2 linked regions of the Homo sapiens genome follow. The protein of the gene in region 2 interacts with the protein of the main gene of each other region in a pairwise test. Each region holds a gene or a part of one and is shown on either strand. Other genes may lie near its edges.

Region 1 (3,500 bases), on a different chromosome or scaffold from region 2:
GGGGTAAGGAAGGAGTACTAGTGAGAATTCTGGCTAAAAAGGAGCCCCCATTCCCTGTTTCCCAGTTCACACTTACCTCCCAGAAAGAGGTAGCTACGGCGCCTGGCATAGAGTGCACTGAGGGTGAAGCAGGTAAAGATCATTGCCGTGCCCATGAAAGCAGTGGGAAGGATGCTGTTAGAAAAAAAGACCATTAGATTAAGGGCTACAGGTATACGGTCTACATTTAGAAGGTATATTCATAAAGATAAAAGCACATAAGACACTACCAAAAGAGTTACCTGGGGTTGACAGCAATACAAAACTCCAGGGCAGGGCCCAGGCCAACTCCTAGAAAACAGAAAACCCAGAACACAGTATTACGATCAATTCTTGAATAGGATCCTCATCCAAAAGCTGATCCCGAAATATAGGCATACTCATGCTCTTAACAAACGTGGACTAAAGAATTAAATCTCTCTCCCCTCCGCTGTAATTGTTTTCAATAAAATGTATACCTGACTGCGTTGTTTTTTTTTTTTTTATAGAAATAGCTGCAAAATTGTCCTCTTAGCTGAAAATCATGGATGACCTCAGGGAGGGTACAGAGATTACAAGAAAATAAAGTAGGCATGCCAAACATTTCAGAGCTAGAGTGATGTAAGATGGTAATATAGGCCAGATCAGGAATTAGAAAAAAAGGATAAAGAGCAAAACAGTGCCTCGTGGCCAGCAACCTTATAGTCATGTAGGACTGACTCCCCTTTGTAGCAAAGAAAGGTGAGACTGGTTCTGCAGGTGGACACCTGCCAACAGGAGGGCAACCTGTTCCAGCTCTAACATTTCTTTCGTTCTAATTACTTTCCTCTTTCCTTCTGATAATTCCACCCCTTAATGCCTTCAAAAACTAGCTTGCCCTGATGCAAAAATTTTAATCCCTAAATCTCTTCCTTTCTAAAATTTCTCCTACGTATATTAGACTGTCACTCAGAACAAGCTGTTCTAATTCAAATGTTTTGCAAACATTTTTATTACATAGCTTGAGTCTTGTTTCCTTTATGACAATTCTAGAAGAGCTGTGCCTTTCTTTTTTTGAGAATCAGCAAAGTGTCCTGCACAATAGATCTCAATGTATAGCTTTAATGCACTGTCTGTAAGACTCAGAACAGAAGCTCCTATGATAATTGCCAGTATGGGTGCAACTATGTCGGATTCTCAAGTCTAGTTTATTAAAAGTTCTATGCCTACTATTAATAGGTTATGCTACCTAAGCTCTTGAACCTCATTCATTCAAGTACACAATGGCTATTTTTGGACACAAAAGTAGAGTCACAGTGGCTACTCACAGAGTTTCCCCTAATGGATGGGGAAACAAAATGAACCTATATGAGATTAGAAAGCAGGCCAGGAAGGCCAGGCACAGTGGCTCACGTCTGTAATCCCAGCACTTTGGGAGGCTGAGGCAGGTAGATTACCTGAGGTCAGGAGTTCGAGACCAGTCTGACCAACATGGTGAAACCCCGTCTCTACTAAAATACAAAATTAGGGCCAGGGGCAGTGGCTCATGCCTGTAATCCCAGCACTTTGGGAGGCCGAGGTGGGCGGATCACGAGGTCAGGAGTTCGAGACCAGCCTGGCCAACATAGTGGCCCATCTCTACTAAAAATACAAAAGATTAGCTGGCGTGGTGGTTGATGCCTATAATCCCAGCTATTCGGGAGGCTGAGGCAGGAGAATCGCTTGAACCTGGGAGGTGGAGGCTGCAGTGAGCCAAGATCGTGCCACTGCACTCCAGCCTGGGCAACAAGAGTGAAACTCAGTCTCAAAAAAAAAAACAAAAAAACAAAAAAAAGCGCTGGGTGTGGTGGCTCATGCCTGTAATCCCAGCATTTTGGGAGGCTGAGGCGAGCAGATCACGAGGTCAGGAGATCAAGACCATCCTGGCCAACATGGTGAAACCCCGTCTCTACTAAAATACAAAAAATTAGCCGCTGTAGTCCCAGCTACTTGGGAGGCTGAGGAAGGGGAATCGCTTGAACCTGGGAGGCAGAGATTGCAATGAGCTGAGATCTCGCCACTGCACTCCAGCCTGGCCACAGGGTGAGACTCCATCTTAAAAAAAAAAAAAAAAAAAAAAGCCAGGAGGCAGGGTACTATGGCTCACGCCTGTCATCCTAACACTTTGGGAGGCTAAGGTGGGTGGATCACTAGGTCAAGAGATCAACACCATCCTGGCCAACATGGTAAAACCCCATCTCTACTAAAAATACAAAAATTAGCCGGGCATGGTGGCACATGCCTGTAATCCCAGCTATTTGGGAGGCTGAGGCAGGAGAATCGCTTGAACCCGGAAGGCAGAGTTTGCAGTGAGCCAAGATCACGCCACTGCACTCTCTAGCCTGGGTGACAGACGGAGACACTGTCTCAAAAAAAAAGGAAAAAAAGGGCCAGGCACGGTGGCTCATGCCTGTAATCCTAGCATTTTAGGAGGCCGAGACGGGCGGATCATGAGGTCAGGAGATCAAGACCATCCTGGCTAACACGATGAAACCCCGTCTCTACTAAAAATGCAAAATATTAGCCGGGTGTGGTGGCAGGTGCCTGTGGTCCCACCTACACGGGAGGCTAAAGCAGAAGAATGGTGTGAACCTGGGAGGCGGAGCTTGCAGTGAGCCAAGATCAAGCCACTGCACTCTGGCCTGGGCAACAGAGCGAGACTCTGTCTCAAAAAAAAAAAAAAGAAAAAAAAAGGGGGGGGAACTAATTAAGAGATACTGAAAATATAGCTCACCCCTCAAAATTAGACAAATCCCTTAACGTACCTGTAAGGAATGCAAATCCAGCAAGAAGTCCCAGTCTTTTCTGTTCAGTTTCATGGCTATGAGGTGTTGCCATCAGCCAAATCATCAATATCAGGGAGCCCAAGGCAGACAGCAGGCCAGCCTGTTAGAGTCAGAATCAATCAATCATTAAACACTTGAAAGTTTCAAATTTATTTTGCAAGAGACCTTTATTGGGTTCAAACACTCGTCTGAACTTCCTAACATTTGCTTATAACCTGGAGGCAGGAGAAAAAGTAGTGTTTTCTCAGGGATGGGGCTGAGGAGATAACCCAGAAGCCTTGAAGCACAGAGTTAGGACCATGGTGGATGCTGGAGGCTCTTCTGGCTTGCGTAGTCCTTCAACTACAGTACAACTACCCAAGTCAAACTATGAGTGAGTCTTGCCCAAAAAATAGAAAGGATGAATGAAACGTGACAAGTGCTTAAAGTACATTCCATCTGTAGAACAAATAGAAATGATCCCCCTTTGGTCACTTTAAAAAAAACATGGTGGCTCACGCCTGTAATCCCAGCACTTTGGGAGGCCGAGGTGGGCAAATCACCTGAGATCAGGAGTTCGAGACCAGCCTGACCAACATGGAGAAACCCCGTCTCTACTAAAAATACAAAATTAGCCAGGCATGGTGGCACACGCCTGTAATCCCAGCTACTCAGGAGGCTGAGGCAAGAGAATTGCTT
Region 2 (3,500 bases):
CATAGCAGCAGCACTTGATCTGTTTTCCTGAAGCTGATTGGTCACCCAAATAGGTACTGCCTCATTCCACCAAAAAGGATCCTTGTCATTAGAGTCAGAAAAGTGTTTCTTTGTGACTGCATCATACATGGAATTAGCCACAATGCCATGGCTTTCTTCATACAAGCCTGTCACAATACTGTAGTGGTTTGGAAATGTTTTTGTGATAAAAACATTTTTAACATGCTCTACCAAAACACCTTCTTTGATAAAATTCTGGAGATGAGGAAATTCATAGTTCTTCAGATAATCAGCTCTGAAGCCATCAAAGGATACTAGTAGTAACTTAGGTGGCAAACTAGAGGAAGAGTCACTTCTAAAACCAGTTATAAGTCCAGAAAACAAAAGTATTACTAATAACTTCATAATGAACACGTTGAAGGACAGCAATCAGGGTTCCTAAAATGTAAAAACACAACTCATAAGTAGTAATTCTATTTCATTTGGGTTAAGTTTTAGAATTTTAGCCCACAGGAGGAGAGAACCAACATTTATATGCCAGCTTTACCTATATTAACTTAAATAATACCATTTATTTAAAAATAACTAAAAGCTAAAATTGGAAAAAAAATTGTCTTGTCCAATTTCCTATTTATATATATGCCCTACTCTATCCTTCATATGGGCCATTTTTATACTCCACATCAATACTCCTTCTAGGCTGTCAGCTCATTTGCCACATTAGAAATTCTTCGAAAGGCTTAATAAAAATAGATGCAGACACTAAAATGATTCTTTTGTAAAACATAACGTTAATGCCAAGCTTTCAGAGGCTCCAGAGATGATGATTATTTTTCCAGTTTAATAAATTGTACTTTATAGTTTCTTTAACCCACAGAAATAATTGGTGGAAATTCTACCATATTGGTTTATTGCCAGTTCTTGTTGAAAATATTGCTATAAAAAAGGGGGAATAAGAAATAAATGCTATTGAGAAAAAAGCCCCCATCAGTCTGTATGTGCCCCAATAGTCACATGAAGTTGATTAACAAACATGCAAAGCCTACATGGACATGGATGCTCCAGTAACTTATGAAGAAATCCAATAGCTATTGAAATGAGTTTTATTACCACATCCCTCTTAAACTTCCTTTTAGCTATCAACAACTATTTTCACTAATACCCTAGGCTTAAAGCTATCTCTGATTTTTTGTTCTTTCTTTAAATCAATTCACTGATGACAAAAACAGCTTTTCCCTAATAAATCTCCCTGCCTTTGCTCTCTATCTTCTTTGGTCTCTAAGAAAATAGGACATGTGAGTGAGGTAAAATGATTCACTTCAGATGGACAGGATGCCTCTTCCATTGTAACAGGAGAGAAGGAGCAAAGGTAGGGGAGCTGACAGATTTGAGGGCTGGAGGTGAAGAGAGTTGCCGGAGGTAGGGTCAATTATTGACAGGGAGTAGAATGGTAAAAGGTTCAGAGGTTTGAGGAACAGAAAGAATGTCTGAAATAGTTAATGTGGAAGATGGGAGAAAGTGTGAGTAAACAGTAGAACTGGAGTCAATGTTGACAGCTGTCATGAATTTTCATAGTGACACAGTTGACTGGTTTTCTCTAGCAACTCAGTAAACCTGGCACAGGCATGAACAAAACAGGCAGCTGATCCTACCTGGATTTGAGATTCTGCCAGAAACTGAAGGAAGACAAAGGAAGCTGAAGATGCTAACTAAAGAGCAGCTGAAATTGGGGCTGCAGCATCTAAGCTGAAACTGACAGATGTAAGTAAGAAGTAGAGAAGTTTTTCAACTAGAGGTTCTGGTGAAGTCAAAGAACTAATGAAGATTAGTTAAGAGTAACTTTTAGTGAAAGTTACAAAGATCTGGGATTGCAGTTAGAATGCAACAAGTGAATGCATTATTTCAGACTAAGAAGACCCTGAACATGGTAACGGGTATGCATGTTGAGGTCCCAGGTATGAAGAGCAGCAAGTTAACTAATATGATTATGAAGTTCAGGAGTCATTTATTGTGTATTCTCTCAAGTAGACTGGAAACACTTTCTCTCTTTCTTTCAAACATGCCACCTGGAGGATCTGCGTACTTGTGGTCAAATACTGACAGAGGCTGTGATCCTCTGAAAAACTGACTTAAAATTAGGAAGACCAAAGGCACAGAATCTGATTTATGAGGATCTTGGGGTCTACAAAATCTCTACTATTTTAATCGGAGACAGGTTGCCTTCTGAATGTGGTGCATGGAACATTTGTTCCTGGTGCTCCCTAATAACCAAAACTAATGCAGAGTAACAAAACCACCTCTCCAAAAGACAGAGTAACAAACCTAATGAGTGGTAGAGGAGGCATATGGGTATTTCCACAGACACAGCCCTAGTCATAGCACAGCAATTTCAGCTATCAAGAATCTAGACAATGGTACTTACCCGTTCATTCAATATTTTATGCCCTCAACACAGTGTTTATGTATGACTTAACTCCTCCCTCAGAGAGTTTTAACTGGGTTCAATCAGATGACAGTATCATGTGGGTTGCTACAATTTTAGAACTTGTGTCAAGGGCATGCAGGTCTCCATGAAAGCTTGGATTGAGTAGATTCCCTGGTTTCTCTCTGGGTATAGTTCCCCATATCCAAATATTTCTTTCCAATCACAGAGTAGACTTTTAAATCAGCAAATACGGCGGCACAGTATCTTCTCACAGGGAAAACATACTCATAAACTTAATTTTTGAAAAACACTATTTACTGCTCTGGCTCTTTCCCTGTGTAACTATTTTATATTCCCAACCAATCCTATCCCACTGCACAGCTGTTCTGCTGCCAAATCCAATCTGATATGTGTCAGATGGAATGCATTCTCTATACCTCCAAATCTTTTCCCCCTTCCTTAGTTCCCAACCCTTTAAAACAGCTTCGCCATTCTCTCAGTAACAAAGAGATCCCCTGAGTATATGATCAGTTGCCAGTCTAGTCAATTCTATCTTCGTATCATCTAATACAGCATATCAGACAAAAGAATCACTGAAGGGAGCTTGTTAAAAGTGCAGCTGTCAAGTCACTATAACTAGGAGATTCTGATTCAGTCAGTCCACAGTAGAGGCCAGAAACCTGCATTTGAAACAAGCATTTTTAACAGCTACCCACTCATCCATCTCTACTACTGCTATATTTTTTAGTCCTCAATACCTCTTGTCCAGAGCACTTTTGTCTCTTAATTCACCTTTCTACCTCAACCACCTTCCACTTTCTTACCTCACACCTGCTGCCTACTCAGTCTCTCTGGGCACAGCTCTGTTCATGTTCCCTTAATTTAAAATATATTCAAAAGGCCCCCCTGCCTATACAAAAAGCCCAAATGCCTCAGTCTCACATTGAAGCCCCTCCAATATCCAGGTCCAACTTGCATGCAAATTACTGTGAAATAAATACAGAAATAACTGCCAACTTGAATTTCCATTCACCATACTTCATTGCCATGGTCTTTCTGAAATGTATTACAACAA

The links. Proteins that work in one complex are often made in the same cells at the same time.
Region 1: the proteins of ENPP4 (region 2) and TMBIM6 interact in binary tests that used the Homo sapiens proteins (3 or more experiments, as listed by UniProt).

Annotation. Positions count from the first base shown.
Region 1 is NC_000012.12:49,755,057-49,758,556, reverse strand, and holds part of TMBIM6 (bax inhibitor 1), read right to left. Parts: intron 2,923-3,500; coding exon 2,802-2,922; intron 331-2,801; coding exon 282-330; intron 175-281; coding exon 77-174; intron 1-76. UniProt on the Homo sapiens protein: Endoplasmic reticulum (ER)-resident protein that confers cellular protection as an anti-apoptotic protein by limiting multiple stress-inducing pathways surrounding the endoplasmic reticulum and mitochondria.
Region 2 is NC_000006.12:46,136,489-46,139,988, reverse strand, and holds part of ENPP4 (bis(5'-adenosyl)-triphosphatase ENPP4 precursor), read right to left. Parts: intron 439-3,500; 5' UTR 406-438; coding exon 1-405. UniProt on the Homo sapiens protein: Hydrolyzes extracellular Ap3A into AMP and ADP, and Ap4A into AMP and ATP. Ap3A and Ap4A are diadenosine polyphosphates thought to induce proliferation of vascular smooth muscle cells.